Homo sapiens: one gene and its partners. The protein of the gene in region 3 interacts with the protein of the main gene of each other region in a biochemical or structural test. Each region holds a gene or a part of one and is shown on either strand. Other genes may lie near its edges.

Evidence for each region.
Region 1: the proteins of ANGPT4 (region 3) and TIE1 form a complex in vitro, tested with the Homo sapiens proteins (one study listed by BioGRID).
Region 2: the proteins of ANGPT4 (region 3) and TEK form a complex in vitro, tested with the Homo sapiens proteins (2 studies listed by BioGRID and IntAct).

Annotation. Positions count from the first base shown.
Region 1 is NC_000001.11:43,315,538-43,325,169, forward strand, and holds the end of TIE1 (tyrosine-protein kinase receptor Tie-1 isoform 1 precursor), read left to right. Parts: intron 1-1,661; coding exon 1,662-1,872; intron 1,873-2,026; coding exon 2,027-2,137; intron 2,138-2,344; coding exon 2,345-2,535; intron 2,536-3,697; coding exon 3,698-3,811; intron 3,812-3,921; coding exon 3,922-3,992; intron 3,993-5,731; coding exon 5,732-5,772; intron 5,773-5,858; coding exon 5,859-5,955; intron 5,956-6,078; coding exon 6,079-6,178; intron 6,179-7,113; coding exon 7,114-7,185; 3' UTR 7,186-7,571; downstream 7,572-9,632. UniProt on the Homo sapiens protein: Transmembrane tyrosine-protein kinase that may modulate TEK/TIE2 activity and contribute to the regulation of angiogenesis.
Region 2 is NC_000009.12:27,102,082-27,113,910, forward strand, and holds the start of TEK (angiopoietin-1 receptor isoform 1 precursor), read left to right. Parts: upstream 1-7,143; 5' UTR 7,144-7,509; coding exon 7,510-7,561; intron 7,562-11,829. UniProt on the Homo sapiens protein: Tyrosine-protein kinase that acts as a cell-surface receptor for ANGPT1, ANGPT2 and ANGPT4 and regulates angiogenesis, endothelial cell survival, proliferation, migration, adhesion and cell spreading, reorganization of the actin cytoskeleton, but also maintenance of vascular quiescence.
Region 3 is NC_000020.11:875,689-886,693, forward strand, and holds part of ANGPT4 (angiopoietin-4 isoform 1 precursor), read right to left. Parts: intron 9,638-11,005; coding exon 9,390-9,637; intron 5,599-9,389; coding exon 5,483-5,598; intron 4,161-5,482; coding exon 4,059-4,160; intron 2,640-4,058; coding exon 2,473-2,639; intron 478-2,472; exon of another isoform or gene 1-477. UniProt on the Homo sapiens protein: Binds to TEK/TIE2, modulating ANGPT1 signaling. Can induce tyrosine phosphorylation of TEK/TIE2. Promotes endothelial cell survival, migration and angiogenesis.

The DNA of each region.
Region 1 (9,632 bases), on a different chromosome or scaffold from region 3:
CAGCTACTAGGGAGGCTGAGGCAGGAGAACTGCTTGAACCCGGATGGCAGAGGTTGCAGTGAGCCAATATCACGCCACTGCACTCCAGCCTGGATGACAGAGTGAGTGAGACTCCATCTCAAAAAAAAAAATCCATTCAGAGATTCAATTGGCTTCTTTGTTCCAAGCTGTGTTGGCTCTTCCTCTGAGGTCAGTGCACACAGAAAGCCCTCACTGCTGTGGTGGGGGAGGGTAATGGGTACAGATGTCGAGGGCAGGAGGTGGGAAAGCAGTCCTTAACATACATGGTGTCATACTCTATATCAAGATATATCCCCCTAGCCTGGGCAACATGGCAAAACCCCATCTCTACAATAAAAGAAAATATGAAAATTAGATGGGCGTGGAGGTGTGCACCTGTGGTCCCAACTACTCGGGAGGCTGAGGTGGGAGGATTGCCTGTGCCCAAAAGCTCGAGGTAACAATGAGCTGAGATCGTGCCATTGCCCTTCCGCCTGGGCAACAGAGCGAGACCTTGTCTCAAAACAAACAAAAAGATATATCCCTGGTACATGTGCCTGCATATGGATAGGAAACGTGTGTGCACAAATGTGTGTGCTCCATGTATGAGTGCACACGTGCATCCCCTGTGAGTGCCACATGTTTAAATGCGTGTGTCCCAGATGCACGTGTCCCTATGCCTGTGCACCTTCAGGCCTGCATGTGTGTATGGACCTATACATGATGCACCTACATATGGTGCTGCCCAAGAACATCACGTGCATTTGCTATGTGCCGTCAGCACCAGTGCTTCTTGCAAATCCCTGGGCCCCAGGTCCTCAGCCCTTGCCCATCAAGCTGGACTTCAGTGCACTTAGGAAGCCCCACCAGAAGGTCTGTCTTAACCCTGCTTCCAGTTCTCATATTGGCAGTTTCTTTGGTCCTGTTCACTTATTTCCTTTTCCCACCATCAGCCCCACCCAGATGGCCTCCTCCTACTGAGTTAGGAAATTGGACATTCCTCTTTGTTATAGTCTTGCTATTTTCAGGTCCTGGCCTGATTTTAGAGCTATGGAGAAAAGCCAAGTGTGTGGACAGGGTAATCTCTGCTTCTGCTACTGTGGAGAAAACCCCTCCACTGGCTCCCAGCAGCTCAGGGCTGAGCATGTAGTAGGTGCTCAATAAATGTCCCCTGGCCTACTCCCTAAGGCTGGAATCTTCTCCAGAGCTTCCCTGGTGACCCCCAACAACAACAACAACAAAAAGCCTGGTTGTAGGATTAGCACAGTCATAGGAAGCTCATTCCGATCCTTTTCTGTTTTAAATGTTAGAAATATCCTCCTTCCATTGACTCACATTGTGGCTTCTAGCAACTTTACCCACAAGCCCTGGTTCTGCCTTCCAGAGTCCCGTACACTAGATCCCCTGGCTGCAGCCTCTGCATTTCTCTCCTTGGACATCTGTCCACCCAGCAGCCTACCTGTGGCTCTGTTACCTATGATTCTGTCTCAGTTATGTCCTCTGTCTGCCTGTCTGTCCCTGGCTGACCACCAGGGTGCCCTCCATCTGGGTCTCTGCCCACTTGTCTGACACTGAAACCTCCTCGTGTGCCTGTCTGTGCCTCCTTCCGCCCCCTTTGACTCTTGCGTGGACCGTCTGCCCTCTTGTCTCATCCTGTGAAGGGCGAGGAGACCATCCTGCAGTTCAGCTCAGGGACCTTGACACTTACCCGGCGGCCAAAACTGCAGCCCGAGCCCCTGAGCTACCCAGTGCTAGAGTGGGAGGACATCACCTTTGAGGACCTCATCGGGGAGGGGAACTTCGGCCAGGTCATCCGGGCCATGATCAAGAAGGACGGGCTGAAGATGAACGCAGCCATCAAAATGCTGAAAGGTCCACTGGGGCGACCCCTGGCCCAGCCCTGATGCTCTCCTTTGTCCCACAAATCCCAGGCCCCACCTGGCTTCCTCCAGCAATTGACCCCAGCCCTTGCCAGCCCTTTCTCCAGAGTTATTTCTGGCAAAATAATATTGGATTCTTTACACAGAGTATGCCTCTGAAAATGACCATCGTGACTTTGCGGGAGAACTGGAAGTTCTGTGCAAATTGGGGCATCACCCCAACATCATCAACCTCCTGGGGGCCTGTAAGAACCGAGGTGAGCCCCCAGCTCATCACCTACCCCTTCTTCCAAACCCCCATCCTCAGCCATCACCTCCACCACATGAGTAGCTTGCCAGGGGCTGCTGGTGACCTGTGCACCACCCTTGATCCTCCTTCATCCCTGTCTGTTACCATCGGGTGCCTGCTCCCACCCTAGGTTGCCTGTGTCTAAATCACCACTGTCTGTCTCTTTGCCTCTCAGGTTACTTGTATATCGCTATTGAATATGCCCCCTACGGGAACCTGCTAGATTTTCTGCGGAAAAGCCGGGTCCTAGAGACTGACCCAGCTTTTGCTCGAGAGCATGGGACAGCCTCTACCCTTAGCTCCCGGCAGCTGCTGCGTTTCGCCAGTGATGCGGCCAATGGCATGCAGTACCTGAGTGAGAAGCAGGTGTGTGTGAGTGGGGGCGGGTGGAGGCCAGAGGGGGAAGCCACTGGGCTGGTGTCAGTGGAAGAAGTCAGCCGGCCCTGATTGTATCTGGGGATTGAGGTTCCTGGCCCAAGTGTGTGGGTGGGTGCAAGCACAGCGAGGAGGCAGGGCCAAGGGGCAGGTCTGGAGGAGGTGGGGACTTCCAGTATGGAGGGTGCGGGTGTTGAGTGAGCAGGTCTAGATGCTAGCCTGGAACTCAGGAGAGAGGCCCAGGCTGGAGACAGCATCTGTGTGTGAGCTGTCACCCCACAGATGGTGCCTAATGGCAATGGGCCTGGTGCGATCTGCCGGAGAGGGGGAAGGGCAGAGATCCAAGCCCAAGTCAACTCAGGCCTGAATGAGAGGACAGGGGGATGACTGTCCAGGGGAGTGTGAGTCTGAGGGAAGGCATTTTATCTTTTTTTTTTTTTGAGACTGAGTCTCACTTTTTTGCCCAGGCTGGAGTGCAGTGGTGCGATTTCAGCTCACTACAACCTCTGCCTCCTGGGTTCAAGCAATTCTCCTGCCTCAGCCTCCTGAGTAGCTGGGATTACAGGCATGTACCACCACACCCAGCTAATTTTTGTATTTTTAGTAGAGACGAGGTTTCACCATGCTGGCCAGGCTGGTCTCGAACTCCTGTCCTCGAGTGATCCACCCGCCTCAGCCTCCCAAAGTGCTGGGATTACAGGCATGAGCCACTGCACCTGGCCAGCATTTTAAAGATAGTAAAGTTTTGAGTATGTTTGAAAGCAGAGGGGCAGGGGAAGGGGCCAGTGCAGAGGGAGGGGCTGGTGGAGAGAGGTCTCTGGGGAAGCTGGAGGGCTAAGGGAGAGAAACTGGAACCCAGGGGATGGGAAGAGGGAGGGGGAGAAGCATGGAAAGAGGAGAAGGTGCAGTATGGCCACCACTGTCTCAGGAAAAGGGATCCAGCCTGAACTTGGTCAGGGCCCAGGAACGAGCGGGTGAGAGCCAACACTGATCTTTCTCAGATATGAGTCAGCTGACGAGATTGCAGCCAGGAGGGTAGGAGTATGGGGTATTGAAGGTAACAAGGGTACCCACGAAGACTGACTCCTTACTGGCCTGACTGTCCTGGGCTCCCTCATCCCCAGTCTCTCCTGACTTCTGACCCTGCCTACAGTTCATCCACAGGGACCTGGCTGCCCGGAATGTGCTGGTCGGAGAGAACCTAGCCTCCAAGATTGCAGACTTCGGCCTTTCTCGGGGAGAGGAGGTTTATGTGAAGAAGACGATGGTGAGTCTCATTCAACCCTCACCCTTAGGGCTTGTGCCTGGCCCTGCCCCACAGGAGCCTCAAACAGGCCCTTCCTCCACACTCAGCCCCTCAAACCCATTCTCTCCTAGGGGCGTCTCCCTGTGCGCTGGATGGCCATTGAGTCCCTGAACTACAGTGTCTATACCACCAAGAGTGATGTGTGAGTGTGAGATGAGAGGGCACAGGAGGGCTTGGCCCCCAAGAATCACCCAGGCCTGACCTAGACATATCTCAGAAATGTCATAGGTGGTCTAAGGCATGACCTGGGCTGTGTTCCAGGTGTGACACAGGTGTGTCTTGGGTATAAAGTACCTAGCCAAGGTGGGGCTTGCTGGAAGGAGTCTTGGAAGGTGTTTCAGGAATAGGACTGGGGTAAAGGTAGTTTCGGATTATGTTTGTGTAAGTGACGGGGGATGCCTTGGAGAGGTTTGGGAATGCTGGCGGATGCTTCCTGAGGTAGATGGAGAGGCCACTCAGGAATTGCTCTCATCTTCCTCCCTGAAGGGCAAGGTCATGCCCACCTGAGGATCTTACCAGAGCATGACCCCCAAGACTCCCTCTCTGTGCCCCCTCCCCTGCAGACAGCCCTCTTGGCACACTCCTCCTGTCTCTCCAGGGATGTCCATCTTGATCTGAACCTACCCCTTGCCCCAAGCCCTTTGGCCTTGCCTGCATGGCTCACTGCTTACCACACTGATCACTCCTCTGACCACTACATGCCTACTTCGTGCTTCTGCCCCAACACTCCCTTGATTCCCTCCACCCCCTTTGAACTCTCTCCCCTGGTCTCAGGGCTGATGCACACTACACAGAGGCTGTTAAAGTGTGAGATGCAGTCAAGAGTAAGAGCTTTGGAGCCTGAGTTGGAACGCTTGCTCTGCCACTAACTAGCTGTATGGCCTTGGGCAATCTAGCTAACCTCTCAGTGCCTCAGTGTCTTCATCTGTAAAATGGCAAGACTAATAGAACCTGTATCATAGGGTTGGTGTGAGGGTTAAATGAATTAACATGTCTGTTAAATGACCAGGGCCTGGACCACGGTAAGTGCTCAATAAAAATGTTAGCTCGGCTGGCTGTGGTGGCCCACATGTGTAATCCCAGCACTTTGGGAGGCCAGGCAGGCAAATCACTGGAGACCAGGAGTTTGAGACCAGCCTGGGCAAGATGGCAAGACCCTGTCTCTACTAAAAATACAAAACATGGCCGGGCGTGGTGGCTCACGCCTGTAATCCCAGCACTTTGGGAGGCCAAGGCGGGCAGATCACAAGGTCAGGAGATCGAGACCATCCTGGCTGACACAGTGAAACCCCATCTCTACTAAAAATACAAAAAGAAATTAGCCGGGCATGGTGGCGGGCACCTGTAGTCCCAGCTACTTGGGAGGCTGAGGCAGGAGAATGGCGTGAACCCAGGAGGCAGAGCTTGCAGTGAGCCGAGATCTCGCCACTGCACTCCAGCCTGGGCGACAGAGCGAGACTCTGTCTCAAAAAATAAATAAATAAATAAATAAATAAATAAATAAAAATACAAAACATTAGCTGAGCATGGTGGCACACACCAGCTACAAGGGAGACTGAGGTGGGAGGACCACCTGATCCTGGGAGGTTGAGGCTGCAGTAAGCCACTGCACTCCAGCCTGGGTGACAGAGTGAGACCCTGTCTCAAAAAAAAAAAAAAAAAAAAAACAAAACAAAAGAGCTCTAATTGTGCTGAGCCCAGGGATGGGGGCAGTATGAAGGAGCTTCATTGGCGCAGAGACAACAGCTGGCCAAGGCCAGATACTTACAGAGTAGACACATACAGCGGGGCTGGGAGGCACTGCACATCTTGGGCAGGTAGAAGCTAAACTGCTAGGGACCAGGGCCTAGAAGGTAACTAAGTGCATCCTTCTTATTTCAGCTGGTCCTTTGGAGTCCTTCTTTGGGAGATAGTGAGCCTTGGTGAGTTCCTGATCCCCGTCCCCCAGAGTGCCCCACCTTACCCCACGTGGAGCCCTGGACCGAGAGCACTTTGTCCCCTCCTGCAGGAGGTACACCCTACTGTGGCATGACCTGTGCCGAGCTCTATGAAAAGCTGCCCCAGGGCTACCGCATGGAGCAGCCTCGAAACTGTGACGATGAAGTGTGAGTCACCCCATCCTTGAGCTCCATGATCCTATCTCTGTGATGAGTGACCTCAGCTTTGATCCCTGTGACCCCATCACCCCAGCTGGCCTGACTCCTCATCTCAGCAATGCCCCCTCGCAGGTACGAGCTGATGCGTCAGTGCTGGCGGGACCGTCCCTATGAGCGACCCCCCTTTGCCCAGATTGCGCTACAGCTAGGCCGCATGCTGGAAGCCAGGAAGGTGAGGAGACTGGGGCTGAGGTGGCGGGCTGGGCTCACAGAGTGCTCCAGAGTGCCCTCTCAGAGGTGCCATGACCCCTGTCCCAACCACACTGCCTGCCCAACCTCCCTCAGTGGGGGCTGTCACCACGGCTAGGCTGGGCCCCAGGATGCAGCCTGCCTTTCCAGCCCTCACTGGTTTAGACACCAGGCCCTTCCAAAACTCTTCCAAGGCCACTGCTTAGCCCCAACAGCAAATCCCTACCTTAAGCCCCAAGTCCCAGACTGCTTGCCTGTCCTCTGCTGAGGCCATCAGCCTGTCCTCATCTGGGACACCTCTCCCCACCTGCCAGAGCCAGAGCAGAGTGCATGAATAGTCACTAACCAGATGGATGGATGGGTGAATGAGTGATACAGTAACCGTATGAATGAATGAATGGAATTAGTGGATAGATGATACAATAATCATATGAACATGTAATTCAATAACTCAATCTACTAACCATGTGAATAAGTGAATTATCAAATAAATATAATGAAAAATATATCAAAATTAGTAAATATGAAGAGTTCTTCAAGTAAATTAATGATTAAATAACCATCTTAAGAATGAAGGAATGATCAAATAACCATATAAATGGATGAGTCGTCTAAAATGGCTTTTGAACAGATAAGTTACTGAATGAATGAACGCATAAGCCAAGAATTCATTGAAAGAGTGCATGTAAAAACCCTCCTCTAACAATGGCATTGAGAGCCTCTCACCTGAGGCCCCAACTGTGGCCTGATGCCTTCACTGCCCTGGGCTGGTAAAGGCCACTCTTGGCCATGGGGCCATCTTAGGTCTCCAGAACAAATCAGTGTCAGTTCAAATGCCCCCACCACATGGAAGTCCAGGAGCTTGAGGCCAGATGCACCCCCATTCCTGGCCCCCACTAAAGCTTGCTCTGCCCCCAGGCCTATGTGAACATGTCGCTGTTTGAGAACTTCACTTACGCGGGCATTGATGCCACAGCTGAGGAGGCCTGAGCTGCCATCCAGCCAGAACGTGGCTCTGCTGGCCGGAGCAAACTCTGCTGTCTAACCTGTGACCAGTCTGACCCTTACAGCCTCTGACTTAAGCTGCCTCAAGGAATTTTTTTAACTTAAGGGAGAAAAAAAGGGATCTGGGGATGGGGTGGGCTTAGGGGAACTGGGTTCCCATGCTTTGTAGGTGTCTCATAGCTATCCTGGGCATCCTTCTTTCTAGTTCAGCTGCCCCACAGGTGTGTTTCCCATCCCACTGCTCCCCCAACACAAACCCCCACTCCAGCTCCTTCGCTTAAGCCAGCACTCACACCACTAACATGCCCTGTTCAGCTACTCCCACTCCCGGCCTGTCATTCAGAAAAAAATAAATGTTCTAATAAGCTCCATTCAATGTCTACCTTTTACTGCTGGTCAATCTTGGGGTGAGGGGCGTAGTTAAACCCAAGAGACAGAAACTGGCCGGGCGTGGTGGCTCACTCCTGTAATCCCAGCACTTTGGGAGGCCGAGGCGGGTGGATCACGAGGTCAGGAGCTTGAGACCATCCTGGCGAACATGGTGAAACCCCGTCTCTACTAAAAATGCAAAAAATTAGCTGGAAGTGGTGGCGGGCACCTGTAGTCCCAGCTACTCGGGAGGCTGAGGCAGGAGAATGGCCTGAACCTGGGAGGCGGAGCTTGCAGTGAGCCAAGATCGCACCACTGCACTCCAGCCTGGGCGACAGAGCGAGACTCCGTCTCAAAAAAAAAGAGACAGAAACTGGGCTTTCTAGGAAAAGAAACACTGTCTGAGGCCTCAGCCCTCTGTTGAGGTTGCCTGTCCAGGATAGGAGGTGCTCTGGAAGACTCATTTTACACAAACACCACCAGCCCCTACCTCTGTCCTGATTAGAAGGCCAGTTTTCCCCTGTTCCCTTCCCTGCTCTCCAGCTTCCATCACTAACGTGTCTCCCTGTGTATCTCTAGGTAGCAGCCAGCCTAGGATTCTTTGTTCTGTCCAAATAGTCCATGCCAGGATCATCTATAGCCAGCCTCAACTCTGCCTGGCATCTCAGCGCCAGACGGATCCTGGCCTGTCTAGAGTTTCCTTAGGTGCCTTCTTCTTTACCTTATGCCTCCAGGCAGCCTTCCCTGGCTTGGTAGCCACTTCACTGCCCAATGTATGAGCCCAAAAGGAGGAGGGCAGAGGCCACTCCCAACTTCAGCCAGCCAAGGTAGGATTCCTTTGCCATCTTCAGGGCCTCATAGTGCTGTGAGAGGTGCTTCTCTCCTGGTCCTGAAAGTGAGTCCCACACTACTCCATGCTGTGCAGCCTCTGGACTTGCCTACTGTTTGGATTGCTCATGGCTGGCCTTAGATTTCTCTCCTATTGGTCCTTAAGAAACAAGATTGATTGTGTTTTACACATTTTTTCAGTGAATCAGAAGACATCAAAGAAGGCATAACATGGTGTGGCACTGTGATGAAGAGCACAGGTTCTAGGATCACACCAACCTGTGTTCAAGTCCCTGCTATGTCACTTATCATCTGTGTGGCCTTGGTCAAGTCTCTGAGCTTCAGTTTTCTCATCTAATTAATGGAGTTAGTAACAGCTACCTCGTTGTTTGTGTTAAATGAGACCACACAGGCCCATCTTTCACAGCACTGGGCCTGGGCCATAGTAAGTACACAGTGTCAGCTGATATCATTATATACAAATGCAGGAAGCTGCAGGGAGGTAATGATTAGGATCTGTATTCTGAAAATACTTGGATGGTTGGAGGAGGATGAATTTAAATGGGAGGCTACGTAGGATGAGGGAGATGGGAACTGCTAGAATAAAACTTCATTTCAGATCCACATTCACTGCAGGGATTTTGCCAGGTCCAGGCTGTGGAGATTAAACCATTGTCTTTGATGGAGACCAATATGTAAACAAGGATGCCTCTGTGAAGTGACAGCTATGTTAACAAGCAACAAAATACAGCGGTGTATGCTCTAAGAGAGCGGGGGAAGCTGGGGAAGGCTTAAACAGGAACTGGAGTCAGAACAGTTTCCCAGAGAAAGTGATGTTTTAATCTGGACCATGAAGAGGAAGCAGGGTTTCACCAAAGGAAGAGACCCTGGCACAGGAAACAACACCTGTGATATGTGGCATGTTCAGGAGCTGCAAATAGTTCTCTGTGGCTGGAGCAAAGGGAAAACAGGGTAATGAACCCAGAGAGGTGACGGATGCCAGGCTATGCTGAGCCTTATAGGATATGAATCTTTATCCTAAGAGCAGAGGAGCCACAGAAGAGCTATAAGCAGGGGTGAGTCATAATGAGATTTGCATTTTTTTAAAGTCACTCTGGCTACCCTGTGGAGAACAGATTATATAGGAAAAACAGTAAAGGTGAGGAGCATGGCTATAAATTAGAAACCTTAGATGAGATGAATAAATTCCTAAAAATACACAAACTACTGAAACT
Region 2 (11,829 bases), on a different chromosome or scaffold from region 3:
TATGTGGATTTCTGAACATTAAATTATAAAGATGAATAAATTTATAGGGACTTTATTCATAATCACTCAAAACTGAAAATATTCCAAATAGCGAATAGATAAATAAACTGGTGAATAGATAAGCAAATTGTGGTATGTCCATACAATGGCATACTTTTGAGGAACAAAAAAGGAACAAGCTACTCATACATGCAAATACATGAATTTATCAAATGAATTATGCCAAATGAAAGAAACCAGATTTAAAAAGCTATATTCTGTATGATTCCTTTATATGACATTCTGAAAAATTCAGAACTATAGGGATAGAAAACAGATCAGTGATTCCCTGTGGCTGTTCGTTGGGGGAGGAGATTTTTACTACAATGGGATTTAAGAAAACTTTTGGGGTGACGGATATTGGGGTGATTGGAGCACTTATTATACCAAGGTATGCATTTGCCAAAAGTTACGGAATTGTGTACTTAAATGGAGTGAATTTCCACCTCATACCTGTTAGGATTCCCACTATCCAACAACAACATCATCATCATCAACAACAACAACCACAACAAACCCCGAAAACAGCAAGTGGATATGGAGAAATTGGATCCCTGGTGCACTGTTGGTGGGAACACAGAATGGAGCAGCTGCTATGGAAAACAGTATGGAGATTCCTAAAAAATTAAAAATATAATTACCGTATAATCTCATAACCCCACTTCTGGGTAGATATCCAAAAGAATTAAAAGCAGGATCTCGAAGACATCTTTGCATACTCATGTTCTTTGCAGCATTACTTATAACAACCAAGAGGTGGAAGCAACCTGAATGTCCACGGACTGATGAATGGATGCAGAAAATGTGGTATATACATATGATGGACTATTATTCAGCCTTAGAAAGAAAGAAGTCTTGTCACATGCTACAACTTAGATGAACCTTGAGGACATTATACAAAGTGAAATAAGCTAGTCATAAAAAAGACAAATATTGCAGGATTCTACTTGTATGAGGTAAGTAGAATGGTGGTCGAAGGGGTTAGGGGAGGGGAAATGGGGAGTTGTTCAATGGATATAGTGTTTCTGTTTTTCGAGACAAAAAAGTTCTAGAGATCTGTTGTACAAGAATGTAAGTATAGTTAACATTACTGGCCTGTACAGTTAAAACCAGTTAAGATAGTAAGTTTTATGGTATGTATGTTTTCACCACAATTTTCTGAAAAGGTGGTGAATTTTACTGTATATAAATTATATTCCAACAAACCTTTTTGAAAAAAATGACCAAAATTCTTGATTTTATTTTAGTTTCACACTTTATAATTCTTCAAATCAAAAGGTGGAGTTTATGTTTCCGCTCCTAGATGCAGTCTGAGTGATATGAATTGATTTGGCCAACAGAATGTACAGTAGTAATGATATGCTAATCCTAAGCCTAGGCCTCAAGAGAACTTGTCTATTTCCACTCTATTGGATTTCTGAGCCTGCCACGTTAAGAAGCCAGACTAGCTTGCTGGAAGGTGAGAGAGTTAAAGCTCTGCCATCCTGGTTGCCACACAGGCAGTCAGCCCATACCTGAAGCTGAACTACCTTAATGGCTGACAATTGACTGTGAACACATGAGGGAGGCCCTCTGAGATCAGGGGAACTGTGCAGGGCAGCCCGAACTTCTGACCCACAGAGTCACGAGCTACATAAATGATTGTTGTATTACGCTGCTACATTATGTGGTGGTTTGTTAGGTATTGGTAGCTACCAAGAGGAAGGTTTCATAGATGAGATGACATTTGAATTTTTTTTTTTTTTAATTTGAGACAGAGTCTCACTCTGTCCTCAATCTGGAGTGCAGGGGCGCGATCTCGGCTCACTGCAACCTCCACCTCCTGGGTTCAAGTGATTCTCCGGTCTCAGCCTCCTGAGCAGCTGGGATTACAGGCATGCACCACCACACCTGGCTAACTTTTGTATTTTTGTAGAGACGGGGGTTTCACCATGTCGGCCAGGCTGGTTTCGAACTCCTGACCTCAAGTGATCTGCCCACCTCGGCCTCCCAAAGTGCTGGGATTACAGGCATGAACCACGGTGCCCGGCCTGGATTGTATTTTGAAGGAGGAATAGGAGTTTACTTTTTCTTTTCATGTTATTTTATCATTTTTAAAGCTTTTTTTTTTTTTCAAGGCAGGGGAATACCTGTATCTGTGTCCTATCTATTCTATCTATACCTAGTCTATGTTATCTGCGGCCACATGACCTCACAATGGTTGCAAAGACATCCAGGTTACTCCTTCTCTTAAGCCATTGAGAGAAGGCATAGGATGATTCGAAATAAAGTACAGAGCTCCTGCCCTAAGAGCTTACAGTCTATCTGGAAAGATGCCACCTGTGTCTAGGAAATACCAGGAAAAGAAAAAAAAAAGTATGAGAATTGGTGTTCTCTAGTCTAAAGGGTACAAAAGCAAACAACTGCTAGAACTTTATTCCTTGTACCACCCTTTGGTATTCAACAGCACAATGCCTGATTTTGTGATTTAACTTTTCCTGTTTTGATGCAGTGCCACCACGCTGGGATTTTGTAATTATGAGCTTCAAAAGCAGAGACAACATCTTCTATTTCTGTGTCTCTTCCTACGGTGAATAATATAGTCCTTGCCGTTTCAATGTTAACAAAAGAAAAAGAAAAATGCTGCAATAGCTGAGAGGGTTTAGAGTAAATGGGGTTTGGAGAGGGTCAGGTATTTTCCACAGCCAAACCAGAGTGGATGTTGTCCCTTTAACTGTGGTGTCCTGGCTGAAGGCCAAAACTTAATTGTTGATGACCCTTCCTTTTCTTTTTTTTTTTTTTTTTTTGAGATGGAGTCTCACTCCATCCCACAGGCTGGAGTGCAATGGTGTGATCTCGGCTCACTGAAACCTCCGCCTCCCAAGTTCAAGCAATTCTCCTGAGCCTCCTGAGTAGCTGGGACTACAGGCACATACCACCATGCCTGGCTAATTTTTGTATTTTTAGTAGAGACACGGTTTCACCATGTTGATCAGGCTGGTCTCGAACTCCTGACCTCGTGATCCGCCCTCCTTGGCCTCCCAAAGTGTTGAGATTATAAGCGTGAGCCACCATGCCTAGCCTGACCCTTCCTTTTCTGCTAGCCACTGTTATGTACAGTGGGTTCACAAAAAAGTTCATTAATGTCCTTAAGAAGTCAGATGGGATGGCTCTGGTGGCTCAGTGCCCACAGACCAGTGAAAGACAGAATGTCCGGGCTGTACTGTAGGTGGCTGACACCCCATCTTCTTGGTCACCTCCTGGAGGCCACACTTTATGTATCTGGATTCTGTTTCTTTTTAAAATTATCCTATTTTATTAATTTATTAATTTTAAATTTTTGTAGGTACATAGCAGGTGTGTATATATTTATGGGGTACATGAGATGTTTTGATACAGGTATGCAATGTGAAATAACCACATCATGGAGAATGTGGTGGTATCCATCCCTTCGAGCATTTATCCTTTGTGTCATGAGCAATGCAATTACATTATTTTAAAATATACAATGAAGTCATTATTGCCTATAGTCACCCCGTTGTGCTATCAAATAGTAGGTGTTATTCATTATTTCTAAGTAGCTTTTTTTGTCCCCATTAACCATCCTCACCACCTCCCCCACCCTCCCACAACACTTCTCAGTCTCTGGTAACCATCTTCTACTCTCCATCTCCCTGAGTTCAATTGTTTTGATTTTTAGATCCCACAAATAAATGAGAACATGTGATGTTTGTCTTTCTGTGTCTGGCTTATTTCACTTAACATAATGACCTCCAGTTCCATCCATGTTGTTGCAAATGACAGGATGTTATTCTTTTTTATGGCCGAATAGTACTCTGCTGTGTAGATGTTCCACATTTTCTTTATCCATTCATCTATTGATGGACACTTACGTTGCTTCCATATCTTAGGTATTGTAAACAGTGGTGCAGCAAATATGGGAGTGTAAATGTATTTTTGATGTACTTATTTCCTTTCTTTGGTGTGTATACCCAGCAGTGGGATTGCTGGGTCATATGGTAGCCTGGATTCTGTTTCTTATTTGCCAGTGGATGTTTTAAAGTATACATCCTATTGCCCTGGGTCAACTTTCTCAAGGACGTCCCCTCAGTCTTCTTCATTTTTACATATATGTTCGTTATTTCTAAAAGTGTTAAAATTATAGAAAAGTATAAAAAAGAAAATAAAAATTATGTTTTCCAACAACTCAGAAATAGTCACTTTCAACGCTTTGATATTTATTTGTTGTATATCTGTGGTGTGTATTTCAGTGTGTATAAATTTCATTCTGTTTAAATTGTGTTTTTTTCCCAATCAACAGTATACCATAAACATTTTCACATCTTTTTATGTCAATCTGATTTCACCATAGTATTTGAACACTTGTCTGGAACTTCATTGTATACCATGATTTTTAATAAATAATCCATTTTTGTTGACCATTTTGATTATTTCTAGGCTTTGATTATTATCAACTATGCTTCTATAATGTCCTTATACACAAATTTGGGGGCACATATTTGATTTTGGCTTGGTGTATATCATAAAAATGGATTTTCTGGTGGGGCGCAGTGGCTTACACCTGTAATCCCAGCACTTTGGGAGGCCAAGGGGGGGGGGGGGTGGATCATGAGGTTAGGAGTTCAAGACCATCCTGGCCAATATGGTGAAACCCCATCTCTACTAAAAAGTATAAAAATTAGCCGGGTGTGGTGGTGCACGCCTGTAATTCCAGCTACTCAGGAGGCTGAGGCAGGAGAATCGCTTGAACCCAGGAGGCGGACGTTGCAGTGAGCCGAGATAGTGCCACTGCACTCCAGCCTGGGCGACAGAGTGAGACTCTATTTCAAAAAAAAAAAAAACTGGATTTTCTGGGCCAAAGGGTATGCATACAAGGCTTTTGCTTTGTGTTTGTGATGTTGACCTCTTGACATGTGATACCAGTGTATAGTAGTATTATGTAAGTTATTTTCCACCTCTTTCAGAAAAACCGTTTTGTTATCTATTGATACCTTTGTTAATTAGTCTCAAAGACTTTTAATGTTGTCTATAGTGTTTTTCATGTATTGAGTGCAAAAAGCAGGAAATAGAAAATGAAGAATCAGCCAAGAGCCTTGTTTGTTTGTTTAGTTTGGTTTGGTTTTCTTTATGCTTTTACTGTAGGTATGTCTGGAAAAATCAAATTAAATGGAATGAGCTTGACTCATGAGGAGGCCCCTTTCATTTTCCTGAAGTGAATTAATACAGCACCCACCGATCCTGACATTAGTTATTTCAGAAGCACACTAAGAACTGACCGCACTTCTCAGTGTCACCAAACTATTCTTATCTGTCAAAGTTTCATTTCAAATACTTCTGTAAGGTCTAGGTGTACCCTGCTGGTGTTTGTGATGTCCTACATTACTCTTGATCTACTTTTCAACTATGAAACAAGGGAAAAATTGGAGGTCCAGAGCTCAGGATTCAGATATTATTACCTCTGCTACTCACAGCAGAGCAAGTAACTTAGCCTGTGTGGAACTTCATTTTTCTTTCTTTTTTTTCTTTTTTTTTTTTTTTTTTTTAGACAGAGTCTTGCTCTGTCACCCAGGCTGGAGTGCAGTGGCACGATCTCGGCTCACTGCAACCTCTGCCTCCCAGGTTCAAACAATTCTCCTGCCTCAGCCTCCAGAGTAGCTGGGGTTACAGGTGCACGCCAGCAAGCACAGCTAAATTTTGTATTTTTAGTAGAGATGGGGTTTTGCCATGTTGGCCAGGCTGGTCTCAAACTCCTGACCTCAGGTGATCCACTCCCAAAGTGCTGGGATTATAGGCGTGAGCCACTGTGCCAGGCCCACTGTTTTTGTTTTTTTTTTTCGTGATGACAAATTTAAAGTCATCTCATAGGAATAGAAAATAGCTTTTTAGTAGAAGCTCTTGGAATTTAAATTGAGACTGAATGGAAAGATGAAAGAAAATAAACTTATTAACATTTAATGAGAACCTTCAAAGAACTAGGCATAGTACCAAATGGTTTTATATTTTTAAACCTCATTTATTCCTCTCAAAACACCTGGGAAGGAGATATTTTTGCCATTTCACAGCTGTTGAAACTGAGGCTCAAAAAGACTAAGTAACTTTTCTCAGCTACACATGTGGCTGAGCCAGTATTTGAACCCAGTTCTGTTTGCAGACAGAACCTGGGCTTTTTCACACCTGCAAACTGGAAACATTAATTGGTTCTTAAGATCATCATCGATGTGATAAAACCTGGGACAGAAATTAGTCAAGACTAGCTGCATCTGCCTTTTCCTCTGGTGGGTAGGAAAAGGAGGAGTATAATGATTTCCTCAGGCATGAAGGTCGATGATGAGCAAAGTGTATACTCTCTAATCTAATGTCATAATTCATATTGTGGAGTAATTATCTGGATAAGTGTAGGGTCTCTGACCTCATTCTAGATATTGTACATTCCATGGCTATTTTCATTTTGGTCCATGAACTCTCTTTGCTCTCATGAGCACCATTTTTATCCCAATCTAATCCTGTATGTTTGTGTTTTTACACAGATTAGTTTTTAAATGTTATATATAATTTGCTTCTGAAACACCATTGCTCAATGACTACCAAATCTTTCTCATTACCAAAATCCTTCTATGCCAACTTCTTCAAGAAATTTGATCACCTTTAGATGAATTGTTAATGAAAATTAAAGCTATAGCCGGCAACATGGGTATCTTTGGGCTAATGGCCAACCAACAGGCCATCTGTGTGAAAGAAAACAGGCTAACAATTTTGGACTCTGGTCTCTTGGGGCTACATTGAGCATTGACCTCACCGGTGCTCACTGAAATTAATTGCTTTTCAGGTTGTATTTTCTCATCACGGAAACCTTCTTCTCCCAATTCAAACCATGTGGGTTAAAATGAGAAAACAAAAGCCAAAACGGCTTCCCACACCCAAAAGCTCCTTCTGTCAGAGATCCCAGTAGCCCCGGGAGAGCTGTTAGAAGTCTGAGAAGGATTGGTCATCATCGCATACCATACATAGGTGGAGGGCTTGTTATTCTCAGTTTCCCGCCTATGAGAGGATACCCCTATTGTTTCTGAAAATGCTGACCGGGACCCACACTTCCAACAAAAATTCCTCTGCCCCTACAGCAGCAGCAAAAGCAGCAGCAGAAGCAACAGCAACAGATAAGTGTTTTGATGAATTGCGAGATGGATAGGGCTTGAGTGCCCCCAGCCCTGCTGATACCAAATGCCTTTAAGATACAGCCTTTCCCATCCTAATCTACAAAGGAAACAGGAAAAAGGAACTTAAAACTCCCTGTGCTCAGACAGAAATGAGACTGTTACAGCCTGCTTCTGTGCTGTTCCTTCTTGCCTCTAACTTGTAAACAAGACGTAGTAGGACGATGCTAATGGAAAGTCACAAACCGCTGGGTTTTTGAAAGGATCCTTGGGACCTCATGCACATTTGTGGAAACTGGATGGAGAGATTTGGGGAAGCATGGACTCTTTAGCCAGCTTAGTTCTCTGTGGAGTCAGCTTGCTCCTTTCTGGTAAGGTTTGGCTTTATTTTTTTTAATTTAGTATTTTAAAAAACAGAGTTAGTGATTTCTGGGTGCTCTCCCCAAATCTCATCAGTGCTGATGAACAAGGGGTGGCTGTAGCAAAGGCACCATTTCTCTGTGAGTCTCCAGTCAATATGTGTGGAAGGATTGAAATGCAAAGGCTCTGTGGCATGAACTGATTTTGCTAGTTTGTCTTCTGGGTGATTGGCCCCTGTGTTAGAAACTCTTTGAGGACCGATTAAATCATCTTATTTGAAGAGATCCCCTTACTATCATGCATTATTTTCCTGCTCCTCATTCTGGAGTGTTTTTCTTATTGATTTTTTTTTTAAAGAACAAACCGGTTTTACCTGCTTTAAAGAAAATCTTCAGTAAAAAATGAAATTCATGCTGAGAAATACAGGGGCCCAATTAAGGCAGTGTATAGATTGTCACTGTTAAAAGGGAACAAAGATGCTTTTCTGTAAAAAGATTTTATATCTACATCCTATTTTAAGCAAAGCAATGAAATTGTAGGCTTTTTTTTTTTTCTTGTAGTTAGGGTCAGGGAGATTGGGGCTATTAGAATTTTTGTTTTATTTTAAAAAATGTTTGCCATGTAGTAATTCATAAAGGGTTTACTGGCCCAATGAAACAAAAATTTAGGCAGTTACCAAAATCTTTAACACAGGAGAGTATATGAAGCCTGTTGTAGAGTGAAGGAGTGGTTGGCCAGTGTGTTGGGTTCAGCGTGTTTATTGCTTAGATACTCCAGATAGTGGTGTGCCTCTGTAGCTCACTCAGCCTATGTGACATAGGTAGAAGGCAGTATCCAAACCTGAACTACATATCACAAATACATTTATCATTGCCATCAGTCTCTCCCCTTCGGTTTGAAAACATTCTAATTTTAATAACGAAAATCGAATTGATATTGGAGATGAATTTGGGAAAATTCACTAAACTTCATGGATATAGGGCATATTAATATAATTTGATTCGAGTATACATAAGTATCTGCTATATTTTCTAGGTGTTTGAACTATTTTATTAAATATTCAAAAAACAAATCCAATGAAATAACTGAGTTGAATACAGTTTGTTTTATAGCTCTCAACAACCAATATTTTGAGAATTTAATAATATTCTTTAAGAATGTGTAACACAAGTTGCTAAAAATTAAAAGATTTTAGGTGGCTTCAGTATTTATGTGGAAATTGTTTAAATAATGTTGACTTCTCCAATAATATGTACTTCAAATAATTATCATGATTCCATTTTTGATTTTTTTTTTTCTGAGTGCCATTATTTACCAGTGACATGAAATCTGGAACTTACTCTATACCAGGGATTATAGTGATGTGAAGCCCAGGTGTCTATAGTTTCTCTGAGGTACTTTGTAGGTTAATACACACACAACTGTTTTCATTCACTTTTTTTACTCCTAAAGCAACTGTGTTATAGCACTTTGCAATACAGGCTTAGAAGAATTGTCATAAAATCAAACAAAAAGGTATGTAGCCAAAATACTTGTTCCATGTCTAGACCTCAGATCCCTGGAAAAAACAGCACTGCCTTTAAAAGGCAGAGGACCAAGGAGAGGAAGTAGGTTCATGTTCTTGTTAGGAAGGGTGACACTAGCAAGGTTAGTTTCTGAGGTAGGTCTGTTGTCTTGATCGTAGCTTGCATTCCTAGTCTAAGCCTCCATGAGCATGACTGCTCAAGGCTTGATAATTGCAACAAGAATCCAGCTAGATAATGTCCACAGCCATAGGAGCCCGTTCCTCTAGTCAAACTCCTGGTAGACTAAAGCAGTGGAGCAAGGGGCTTATGGCTTAAAGGTTTATCTCTCTAGTCCAGTGGGTTGTTTCTTGTTTCTTTTTTCTGAACCCACAGACTGAAAAAAAAAAAAAGCCACTTTTTTTTAGTGAAGGTGGCTCTGGATGACAGAGTTGTTTACCCATAAGAGGGCTGGAGGGGATGTGTAGCTCTCAGAAGCTCCTTACAAATACTCCTAGATTCTGTTGCTTTCCTTTTCTGAATTGAGAATCATTGCTAACTTCAGCTTTCAAACAGGTTCTATTATATTAGCTTTTCCCTACTCTTCCTCATAAAACCAGGCTGTTCTCTTTAAAAAGTTGTATATGTAGAAAACTAACAAAAAAATCACTGTGATTTATCATAGTATCTTCTACGTGATCAACAATGATCTAATAGGAAGTCTCTAGTCTCATGCTTTCATACCTCTTTACTGTGTCACTTGACTTTTTTTTTTTTTTTTTTGAGATGGAGTCTCGCTCTGTCACCCAGACTAGAATGTAGTAGAGTGATCTCAGATCACTGCAACCTCCGCCTCCCAGGTTCACGTGATTCTGTGCCTCAGCCTCTCGAGTAGCTGGGACTACAGGCGTGCGCCACCATGCCTGGCTAATTTGTTGTATTTTTAGTAGAGACGGGGTTTCACCATGTTGGCCAGGCTGGTCTCGAACTCCTGACCCCAAGTGATCCGCCCGCCTCGGCCTCCCAAAGTGCTGGGATTACAGGCATGAGCCACCACGCCCGCCCTTGTCACTTGACATTTTAAATAACAACTGGATTCAGAGATAGCAGACATCTTGTCTGGGGTGGCAGAGGAAACAGTTGTAAGGTCAGGGAAGTGCTCCCAGATGAAACCCCCTTGTTAGGGCTGGTCTCAGAAGGCTAGTGTCAAGTCTGAGTAATCAAGGGTGGAGGTCTGAAAGCTGGGATCGGAGACACCCTTTGGAATTATTCTCAGAGGGAGGAGCTTGCTTTTTTCACAGATGCTCCCTTCCAAGCATTGTCTTTATTGTTTGTTAGGTCTCAGCATTTCCCTTTCAGCCCTGCCCTGGGAGAGCTTCCTGGAAGAGTCTAGTTCTTCCAAGGCGTCTCTCCAGGAGGGAAGGAGTCTTCTAAGTTCATCTCAAAAGACTATGTGATGTTCTCTGGGGAATTTAGGTGGGTGGGCTCTAAATTCTTCTGAAATTATCAGTTTGCCTCCTGAGCCTCTATCTCCCCAAAGGATATCTGTGTGATTGTATCACCTGCTTATTCTCTGTAGATGGCTTACTGGTGAGCTCACAGAATCAGGATTTAAATAGATTGTTCTAGGCTGGAAGGGTGGAAAACCAAAACAAAAAGATACCATTTCAAAATAGGTAAATGTCTGGTTCTGTGTTTGGGTTCAAGAAATAAGTTATGTATATTTAATGTGGGAGAGACCTGGTTTGTTGAAAGTTCTTGTGAATGACACCTAGGTTTTGGGGATACACAAAAGTCATGGAAGACAACATAGGCTCTGCTTGCTAAAAAGGTACTGCATAAGCTGTCATATGTTGTATTAGCAGAAATATGAAGTCCAAATCAGAAATGGTAATCACTTCACTGAAATCTACTGCTAAGAGCACATCCATGAAGCACTGAAGACCTGAGAAATTTAACAGCGAACATAGCAGGCAAACTGAAGGAGGAAACATGGATTACAAAGTCAAAGCCCAACTTGGATAACCATAAGCAAGTTATTTAATTTCTCTAAGCCACATTTTTCTCATCTTTTATGGATGAAATACCCATTTTCCAGGGTTGTGATGAGAATCAAATGTGATAATGCCTGTGAAATGCTTAGCCAGTGAGAACTCTCTTAATAAATGAAGCTTGGGGCCTGGTGCTGTGGCTCACACCTGTAATACAGCACTTTGGGAGGCCCAGGCAGGTGGATCATGAGGTCAAGAGATCAAGACCATCCTAGCCAACATGGTGAAACCCCATCTCTACTAAAATACAAAAATTAGCAAGGTGTGGTGGTGTGTGCCCGTAGTCCTAGCTACTCGGGAGGCTTAGACAGGAGGATCGCTTAAACCCAGGAGGCAGAGGTTGCAGTGAGCTGAGATCACGCCATTGTACTCCAGCCTGGTGACAGAGTGAGACTCCGTCTCAATAAAATAAAATAAAATAAAATAAATAATGAAGCTAGTATAATCAAAAGAGAAGTGTTGCTATGAGAACCACTGTGCTAGTCAAGACTGATCTAATCTGCCCCAGGATGTAGGAGAACCACTTAATATTCATAGATGCTGTCTCTTTCTACAAAACCTCAGTATAATCCTGTCTCTCAAACTTTGTGCTGGCCAATTCCAACTGAATAAACCCAAACACTTTGCCAACTACCCATCTACCCTCCCCTCACTTATCCATTTATCCCTGTTTGTATCTTGTCTGCTTCAACCAGGCCCATCTCCACAATCTACACATTCTTTCCT
Region 3 (11,005 bases):
GAGTGCTCAACATTCAGTGCTTGTTATTATTTGGCCCTTGGCAGATGGCTGGGCCTGGTTGGAGAGAATGCGGGGTGTTTGTATGGCAGGGTTGGGGGAGGCTGCACTGGCAGCTGAAGTAGGGAGCCAATTTGGGAGCAATTAAGAAGGTCCTGCTGAGGCTGGGTAGGGTGGCTCACGCCTGTAATCCCCGCACTTTGGGAGGCTGAGGCAGGCTGATTGCTTGAGCCCAGGAGTTCGAGATCAGCCTGGGCAACATAGGGAAACCCTGTTTCTATAAAAAATACAAAAATTAGCTGGGCATGGTGGTGCATGCCTGTAATTCCAGCTACTTGGGAGGCTGAGGTGGGAAGGTCACTGGTCACTGGAGCCTGGGAGGTCTGGGAGGTCAGGGCTGCAGTGAGCTGTGATCATGCCACTGCACTCCAGCCTGGGCAACAGAGTAAGCCCTGTCTCAAAAAAAAAAAAAAAAAAAAAGAAGGTCTTGCTGGGTGGAGGCAAGTGGGTGGCAGATGTGGCCAGGGCAGCTCAAGGAAGCTCTTGTACCCTCAGGGCAGGGCCTGAGAAATTCCCCAGTGGGAATTCAGAGGGAATACAGAGCCTGGGTATATGGTTGGCTCAGTCCCCACACCTCCAGTCATAGATTGTGTCTGTCGCCAGGGAAATGAGACTTAATTATTCTCTGTGTAGAAAAGACTTGGGAGGCTCCCTCAGCTTCCTTTTAGGCACTTACTATGTCTGGGGATGGGAACAGCCGTGCTCCCAGAAAGCAGTCCAGTCAAGGGTGTGAAAGGCTGCCACGAGACAGTGATCGTAATATTGTTTGCTGAGCGTTTACTACATGCCAGGCACTGTGTTAATGCTTCATGTGCAGTATCTCATTCAGGCCTCATCACACCCTTTTTGAGGTAGGTATGCCTAAAGCACCCATTCTACAGATGAAACCGTGAAGGGACTTGCTCAGGGTCACTCAGGGAAGTAGGGATGGAGTCGGGATTTAAGCCTTTGCTTTAGTGGCCAGTGGCTTAAATGGGACTCAGCATAGTGTTGTAGCTACTCACTGGTCAGGTGTGAGGAGTAGGGGGACATCCAGGGAATTTTTCATTCAGCTCTGGACCTTGCATTATCAGGTTGGTATGGATCCCATAAGGAGGGATGTCAGAACCTGGGCAACATAGGGAAACCCTGTTTCTATAAAAAATACAAAAATCAGCTGGGCATGGTAGTGCATGCCTGTAATCCCAGCTACTTGGGAGGCTGAGGTGGGAAGGTCACTGGAGCCTGGGAGGTCTGGGAGGTCAAGGCTACAGTGAGCTGTGATCATGCCACTGCACTCCAGCCTGGGCAACAGAGTGAGACCCTGCCTCAAAAAAGCCTTTGCTTTGGTGGCCAGTGGCTTAAATGGGACTCAGCTGGAGGAAACAGTGGGGGCATATCACTGAGAAGTTCCCAGAAGTGGAATCAGGCATAAAGTTCAGGAGGACAGAGAGTCATTCAGAGATTCCTTGTGGGGAAGCGACCTTCCCACCAGTGGAGGTATTCCAGCACGGCTGGATGATGATTGCAACTATGGAGGGAATCTATGAAGAACCAGATGACACGTGAGATTTTTTGCAGCCCTGTGAGTGTGAATCCTGGTTCAGAGATAGCCAGGACCCAGGCTTATCTAAAAGATCCTTAAATTTCTCTGAGAGGCAATATCATGTTGTGGAGACATCATGAGTTTTGACAGCAGGGAGATCTGAGTTCAAATTCCAGCTCATTTAACTTGTAACTTTGGGCAGGATACTTAAACTTGGCATCTCAGTTTCCATATTACTAAAGTAGGTACAGTAATGCCTACTTCAAAGTGTTGTGGGGAAGATTAAATGGAATAATGGTGCCTGGAACACAGTAGGTGCTCAATAAATGCTAGTTCCTTTTCCCAAATATACCAAGAACCAGGCTGAGGAAGGGGTGAGAAACCTTGATGATCTTACAAGATCGTCATGTTTAAGCTCATCCTGCTATTGAAGAAGCAGAAGCTCAGAGAAGCCAGACTGACTTGTCCAAGTTCCCAAAGCAAGCTGGAGCAAGGCCACAATGAGTGCAGGAATTTCAACTTCTGGCCCAGGGACCCTTCCACCCAGCCCCAGGGCATAGGACAGGCTGGGCAAGTCACCTCCTTTTGCTTCTGGGTCTCTGTAAAAAGGCTGACTTGGGGTGACTGACCTTGGAAGACCCCTTCTTGCTCCTCGGATGGCAGCACCAATGACATTCTTTCCACTCCACCCAGTGGCTAGGACATGCTGAGTGCTAACCAGCCACCTCCAGATCCCATGACGTGCACCCAAATGGGGGACAGATGGTAGGAACAGGAGACACCCAGAGACTGACCGTTGGAGCAGACTCTGTAGACACTAGCCTGGGGACCCCAGCCCGCCCACTAGCTGAAGACCCCAGCCCCCACAACGGCCTGGGCCCCGAACCCACCTGTATAGCTGGTTCTCACTGCCCAGGTGGAAATGTTCGTACTGGGCATAGGCCTCGTGGCCTTCCCAGTCTTGCAGCTCCACACGCAGAGAGTAGGCTGCCCTTCTGGTGAGCTGGTGCACCACTTCATTGCCCAGCCAGTGCTCCCCAGCTGGGTCTCCGAAGCCCTATAGGGAGGGGAGCGTGGGGTGAGACTCATGCTGAGGAGGAGGCCATGTCCCTGGCTGAGGAGCTGGGCTGGGCCAGGCTCCAGGGCTACTTATACAAAACCACTGTGCTTAATGATCGAGTTCATAAGTACAGTGTAGGCAGGACTGGGAGTAGGAGCCCTCCACCTGCTAGAGGGAAAAGACTAAGGCTTTTGTAAGTGTAAAAGCCTGTTAAAAGTTATTGAAATCACATTCCTCTGAAGTTCAAGAACAGGAAAAAGTAATATTTGGTGACTACCTTTGGTGGAGTATTGACTGGGAGGGGGCACAAAGTGGGCTTCTGGGGTGCTGGGAGTGTTGTACATCTAGCACTGAATGGTGGTCACGTGGTTAAATACATATCTAAAGGCTCACTGAGCCTTACACTTTATTTGTGCGCTTAGACACATGTACGTTAAACCTCAACAAAAATTAAATAAAATATTTCAATCAGCTACATAAATAGTAGAGCAAACTTTGTTCAGTGACAGCGCAGCCACTGCAAGATTTCAGCAACACAGAAATGTAAAACTGAGAGTGTGGGGAATGTCATGTCCCAATGCCCTTGGACAGAACAAGAATTCAGCACCAAGGACAGGGGCACACCCAAGGCCCGCTCCCCAATTTAGTCACGATGCAATGCGGGTTAGCCTGATGGTTAATATTCAGGGTTCTTTTGTGTATTTCTGCACCTGGACACCCTATTCCTCCTTGCCATTTTAATGGTTGTTTAAAGCCCAATTAGTTCAAAACACTCATAACTTAATTTGGTATTTATTTTTAAGTATTCCTTAAATGAACAGCAAGCAGACGCAAATAATAGAACTGCTGTATCACTTTGTGGGTATCTTTTTCTATTTCTTTGGCTTTGAAAACTTTAAGAGCTTTTAAGTATTTTAAGTCAGCTTGGCAAAAAATCCTTTATTCAAAACCTAATTAAAAAATTGGAAAACAATCGGGCTTCTCATCTGATAAAATACATGTGATCTTTGGGCCTGCAATTCCTCGTTAATGAATCTCTCCTGCAGATATGATCATAGACGTATGAAAAGACAAGAAACTTCATTAAAGCAACGCAGTCAGGGTTGACTGGGGGGATTTTTATTCTGTCTCCTCCTTTGTATTCTTTAAAAAATTAGAAATGTATATGTATTTTTTTAAAAAAAATTAAAACAAAAATAAAGCTAAACTTTTTTTCTTAGAACATATGTCAGAACTTTCAGAAAGAACATTCAAATTCAGGTGATGGGGTCCCATAAAGCAGATGTGCACTGTCAGCTTTAGATGAGTTGATTTTTTCTGGGGGAGGAATGAGGGCAAAGCAGTCCCCTTCCAACAGCCCAGCCCCAGCCCCAGGTTTCAGAGCAGAATGGCCCCTCCCCAAGGCAGCAGGGCTACCTGTTTGTAATCCTTCCAGTTCCGCTGAAAATTCACGGTGCCATTCTCACGGCGCTGGATGAGGGTCCACCTGCCTCCACTGCTCTGCAGGTCACAGAACACCTGGAGGGGGTGGGCAAGGCACAGCTGGGAGCCCTTGGAGGTAGCCAGAGGCCAGGCCTGTGCTAGCCCAAATGTGGCTAAGCAGACAGACCCCCACAGAGCAACAGGTGAGCCTGGGGGTCCTGGGCATCAGAAAGATCCAGGCTTAAATTCCCCACCCATTGTCATCATTTTTCTAAAGTGGTGGGTAAGGAATGACCTCTCAGAGCCTTCCTCTCATTTGTAAAATGGAGATTCATACCTTAACCTCTTTGTGCCTCAGTCTCTCATCTACCAACTGGGGTTGTGAAAATTAAACGAGATGAGTCACGTAAAGTGTTTAGAACAGTGCCTGGCAGTACTAGGTAAACGGAAGCTCGACCTCTTTTTGTTGAAAGGAGAGGTTAGCAGGTGTGTGAGAAGTGTAAAAGACAACCTGGAGACAAACAGAGGCATTCTCCTTAGTATATTAAGAGGGGGTGAAAGGAAATAGAGCAATGGTAATACTAGCAATTTGAGGGCCGAGGAGGGAGGATCGCTTGAGCTCAGGAGTTTCAGACCAGCCTGGGAAACACAGGGAGACTTTGTCCCTACAAAATGTTTAAAAATATTAGCCAGGCCATGGTGGCATGTGTCTGTGGTCCCAGCTACTTGGGAGGCTGAGGCAGGAGGATCACTCGAGCCCAGGAGGTCAAGGCTGCAGTGAGCTGTGATCATGCCATTGCACTCCAGCCTGGGCACCAGAGCAAGACCCTGTCTCAAAAAAAAAAAGGGAATTATGAAGTAGGAATCTGCTAGTTGTTTCCCTTCTAGGCCTGGCTCTCAGACCCTCCCTCCTGACATCCGTGCTCTTCTCTGTCACCCTTCTTATCGGATGACTTGACCTTAAATTTTAGGACAACCTTGGGAGCCACTGATTGAAAATGGTGGCACCTCTATTAGCCCTGGTTTCTAATTTCCCACATGGAGCAGAACCCCAACTCCTGCCTTCAACTGGACTATATGTAAACTAGAAAGAAACGTCTTTGGGCTAAGGCCCTGGAATTTTGGGGGTTGTTTGTAATATCAGCTATCATCATCTTAACCAACACTGAACTATTTTGTGCTGTTCCAGTTAAAGCACCTCTGAAGTGATGCTGGTTAAGGATGCACTTCCAACTTTGGGAACTTCTGCTTATCCCCACAATCTGATCCCTGACTGCTGGGAAGTCAAAGCCACCCCTACACCTCTGGTATTTCAGATACTGGACAAAGCCTGATCCCGATGGGGTGCGGGGTGTCTGTTTGGGAAGCCCTTGGCTCAGCACCCTCTAACAGCCACAGTTCCCAGGGAGCCCCCTAACCTTCCTGGGCTTCGTTGCATTGGACACCTGGATGGTGTAGACACCACTGGCACTGGCCCCAGAGCGCTGGATCTCTGCACAGTCCTGGAACACCTGCTCACCTGCCATTATGAAGGCTGCAAAGGGACAACACAAAAGTCAGTTGGAGGTGGGCAAGGAAAGAGAGAAGGGGCCAAGTGGGCATGCCTGCCTGCTTTGTGCCAGGTTCTGGGTTGGGAGGTGCTGGGGACAGGGAGATGAGTCAGACCTGGGAAGATTTCGTAGAGGAGGTGACAGTAAGCTGGAACCTGTGTAATGAGCAGGAGTTGCCCAGTGGAGAAGGGGAAGGTGTTCCAGGCGGAAGAAACAGCATATGCAAAGGCCCCAAGGTAGGAAGGGCCCTAGTGTGTGCAGAGGACAGGGCATGGGGAGGGGAACTAAGGCTGAGGCCAAGGAGAGGAAATGACTCACACCGTGAGAGAGGAGTTGAGACCAGGGAGGCTGCTTGCTGTATGATGCAACTGAGAGGGTAGAACAAGGCTGGCACAGAGAAGGTGGGGAAGGAAAAGGAGAGACGAAGCTGAGATTTCAGCAGGGCCAAGTCAGCCGTGAGTGCCAGGCTGCGGAGCCCAGATTCTCTGGGCTGAGAAAGAGCACTCTGTCCAGAGTGTGGAGGGGGGCCTGGAGGGGATGAGACTCAAAGCTGGGAGGCCAGAGAGGAGGCTGCTAGAGTTTTCTGGGAGAGAGTTACTGGGGCCTGAACTCCAGTGAGGCACTTCCCATTTCACAGACCAGGAAACTGAGGCCCAAGAGTGAGGCAACTGGCCCAAGGGCACACAGCCAGGTAAGGCAGAACCTTCCTTCTTTGGAGCTCCCTTGGGTGGGAAGCTGTGGGCTCCCCTTCATAGCCCACCCTTTTGGCTGTATCTCCCTGCTGCCCTGGGCATATGCTCCCTTATTCTGTCCTCCCTTGAAGCTGACTGCTGGCCTTAAAGGGCCCCTGTTTCTTCCCTCTGGACTACATGAGATCGGGATAGTATTAATGACTAAAACCTACCAGGGGTTTCTAGGCCTGGCCTGGAAAAAGTGACTGTTGACAAACAAAGTGCAGAGATTTAAAATCTCCTCTGTCTCAATTAGTGGAATCCAGTTAGAGGTTTGAACTATGATTCTACCAGAATCCAATCTCTCTGGGTAGCCAGGTACCCAGGATGGGGCTAAAATTCCAGATGGATAGGTTGTCAACACCAGTGAGGAACCAGGAGGCTACCACAGGGTGGGACTTCCTGGTTTGGCTTTACATCTGAACTTCAGGGATCCCAGATCCTGGATCTGGGGCACTTGTCCAGAGAAGGCTATTGCTCTCATGTCACAAATGAGATGACTAAGACCCCCAAATCAATTCCAGTTCACTCACAAGCATTTCCTGGGCAGTGGAGACCCCTGCCCCACCTGTTGGCACCCCCTCAGCTCCCCACAGGGAATTGGAGTCCAGCCAAGCATGAGGAGGCTGTTGGCCTCAAGGTGAGCAGGGATGGGCTGAACCTCACCCAGTAAGGCAAGGACAGAGCCAGGGTTGGCCTGAGATTTCCAGCCACCCTTTCCAAGGCTCTGCTCACTGTTATTTTCCTTAGTCTACAACAATATCAATAACAATAACAACAATAATATCAACACAAAAAGTGAAATACTCACCATGTATTGTAGTGTTTCCAAGGTGTCATGTAATGCCAGGGGTAGTTTGGGGCCAGGAAAAATATTTTTGGGAGGCATAAGAATAGGATGGACTGATATTGATATGCAACAGTTTGATCTGGTCCTCCTCTGAATATCTGGGCTGGTAATTTGTACCAGTTTCCCTCGCTTTTGTGCATAGGCACTGTGCTGAACCCTTTTGTATGCATGAACTCATCCGATTCTCTGTGCAAGAACTCTATGAGATTATTATTCCCGTTTTACAAGTAAGAAAAATTGAGGCTCTGAGAAGTTAAATAAATGACTTGTATGAAGTTCCAGTGCTAATTAATAAGTGAAGGAGCCAGGGCTTGAACTCCGGCCCATCTGACTGCAAAGCCAGTGCCCTTCCTCCTACACATCTTCCTTTGGATTTCCACCACTGAGCATATGTAAGGTTGGGCAAACAGCCTGCATGAACAATCGCTGCTTTTATATCATGCACAAGTTTGGTCTTTTCTGCCTGTGCCCATGTCCTTGTAACCTTCTGAACCAAACTCCCCAGTGCCTGGGAACATCAGAAGACTTGACTCTCTTCTCCTTTCACTAGCCTCCACCTGACTGGGACAAAGCCATGCAGAGAGCTAGTGCTCCCTTCCTGCTAGACTTCAAGGATGCCTGGTTCCTGTGCCCCATCTCCATCCAGCCCTCTCTTCTACACCTGGTGACTGAGCCTCTCCTTCAGTTTCTCCATCCAGAAGGGGGTGAAAGCAACTGCCTAGTGTCCTTCCCTGGTGATAGTGGAGCACGGGGGACAGGGTGTTTGGGCAAAAGGTGCCCAAGGTGAGGTGCCCAACACAACCTCCTACTCAGACGATTGAGCAGACATTCAGCCTCATCTGGGGACTGGGTTACCAGTGGGTTAGTGGGAGGCATTGGGCCCAGGCCCTGTGCCTTGGGCTGAGCTACAAGAAACCCACACATGGGATGAATTCAGGCAGCTCAAGGCCAGGTCTGTGCATACGCCAGTAATAGGTTCAGGTTAATCCACATGTCGCGATTTGGAAGGTGTCTACTTTTCCTACCTGTAGCTTCCTTAGGCCTCAAACCCCTACTCAGCTGGGTCTGCCAGACTGAGATGGAGCCAGGGTGGAATCTTCTGCCCTCAAATCCCTGTCAGCCCTGGTGGTGCCGGGAGCGCCATCACTATTGGGTCTTAAAGGCTTTCCAGCCTTCCACTATGGATCCAGGAGCAGCAGTAGCCCCTTTGGTCTTTCTCTCTCATCAGGACATCTCCACTCATGGTTCCAGTCAGAGCTTCTTGAAAGTAGTCCCACTCTGTTCAAAAGCCTCCCATGCCCCCTGCTAGCCTCAGGCTAAGAGCCCTTCTCCTTCGCACAGCCTTTGGACCTGTCTATTTTTATGGTCTGGAAACTTCAGGAACACTGATAGCTGAGCATCTGGCACATATTATGCACTCAAAAACCATGTATTTCTTTCTCCTTCCCTTTGGGACCCGTAAACCAGGGACTGGACATTTTTGCAAGAGACAGGAGCTGTGACTGTGCATTCACTGCTGTATCCCCAGCACCCAGCACTGGGCCTGCCACACAGTAAGTGCTTAGTAAATGTTTGTTGACTGAGTGATTGCAGCTGGGGCCAAGAATGCCTTGGACACCCCAAGTAGGCCGTGTTAGAAGGAGTCAGTGAGAGCCTGGGAGCCCAGCCCAGAATTGTTTTCTTGACCCAGAAGCCAGGGCCAGGGATGCCTCTTCACTTCTGTTTGGCCCTCTTGGGCTTAGGGGCAGGGGCATTAAGATGAGAGAGGTCCTTGGGGTGCATTGAGTCTAACCTCCCAGTTCCTCCCATTCTACAGCCAGGAAAACTGAGGCCCAGGGAGGGGTAGGACAAGCCCAAGAAAGTGGGGCTGGAGAATGAATCCTGGAGACCAAACTTGTCAGTCTGGATTGCTGTTGCCCTCATCCTCGCCTCCAAAACCCATGGGTAAACTGAGGCCAAGAGAGGGGCAGGGGCATGCCCAAGGTCACCCATGGAATCAGGGGACAGGGCCTGGATTGGGATTGTTGTTGACGCCATTATTACTGTTTATTGTTGTTTCTATTTCACAGATGGTCGGGGAGGGTGGGGCCCGCAATGGCTCCCAGGCGCCCAGAGACCCTGGAGGGTGAGCAGGGTCTCCCCTCCCCTCTCCTGCCCGTCTTTAGCCACACTGGGGCGCACACCGCTCACTCACCCGGGGCCGAGGCGTTAGCCCTTTCTTGCACCAGGTGCCGCAACAACACCAGCAGCTGGCGCAGGCTGTGCTGCTGGTCCTGCAGGAGGCTGGAGTTGTGCCTGACACCGCGCAGGCCGCGCTCGATGTTGGTGAGGGCGGCGCTCTGGCGGCTCAGCGTGTTCAGCAGCTTCGCCTTCTTGCTGAGGATGCTGGCCAGCTCCTCCTGCTGCTTGGTCTCCAGGGCCTGCAACCGCTTCTCGAGCGCGCTGCGGGGTAGGGGGCGCACAGAGGTGAGCCTGGCATCCTCGCGAAGCACGCACCCCCGCGCGCCTCCCCGGCCCTGGAGTCCCTGCAGCCCGACGATGAGACTCAAGTGTGGTGGAACGTCCTGTGCCCACTGTAGGCACAGATTGAGGAGGGGAGAAAAGAGATACCCGGCCCTGGAGTAATATAGATTGAGGTTTAGTGGAAGAAAGAGGTGGTGTGGGAGGGACACCAGCAACTGGGTAGCTATTATCAAATCCCAACTGTGCTTGCTTTTTGACCCAGCAGTCTACTCTCAGGAGTTATCCTCTAGGGAGCATGGTCAAGAATGGCCCTGGGGACTTGCTTGTAATAGAAAAACAAACTAACCAACCAACCAAAAAAGATATAGCCTAGATGCCCAAAAGCCAGGACTGGCTGAATCCGTTGCGTTTTGGCGTCCCTGGAAATGTTCCGCAGTCATGAAGGAGGAGGCATTTGCACAGAATTGGAAAGATGCCCAGGACTTGGGGCACATCAAGCCTAACCCCATGTGTGGCAAGAGAAGAAAGAAAGTATTAATGTAAATAAAGAGAAATGGGGTGAACATATAGGAGAAGGCTGGAAAGACCGCAGTGGTGCCTGTGTTTGGGAAGAATATGAAAGAAATTCCCTCAAGTGCTGTGACTTCTGCAGAGCAGGTTTGAGTGGATGAAGATGGAGAGGAGGAAGATGGGGGCAGGATGGAGGGCCCAACTTTCACTTTTATTTTGTACAGGTTCCTGTTGTCCGATGATATTATAATAATCAAGAGACATTTTTTGTAATGGATTTAGAAGCAAAGAGGAGTTTTTCAAAAGAAAGCCTTAGACTCAGCTCTTTCTTTTTGGACATTTTATCCTCCAGATTTACTCACATGTGTGTGAAATGAGATATGGAAATGTTACTCATCGTATCACTGGTTGGATTAGTAAAAGGCTGGAAGCAACCTCAATATCCATTAACTGGGGACTGGAGGAATAAAAGCAGGGACCACATATGGTGGAGCATTATAAAGGTGGAGAAAAAAATGAGCAAGCATGTCATGCAGTTATAGAATCTTTCCAAGGTAACTGAATAATAATTTGTAGAAACAAGGTATAAACAAGTAGTAGGCTACATTTGGGCTTAAAAAGGATAAAAATGGGAATGTACAGATGCTCCAAAATGTATGATGGGGCTATGTCCTAATAAAGCCATCGTAAGTTGAAAATGTCCTAAGTCAAAAACTCATTTAATACACCTAACCTGCTGAACATCCTAGCTTAGCCTAGACCATCTTAAACATGCTTAGAACACTTACATTAGCCTGTGATTGGGCACGATCATCTAGCACAAAACCTATTTTATAA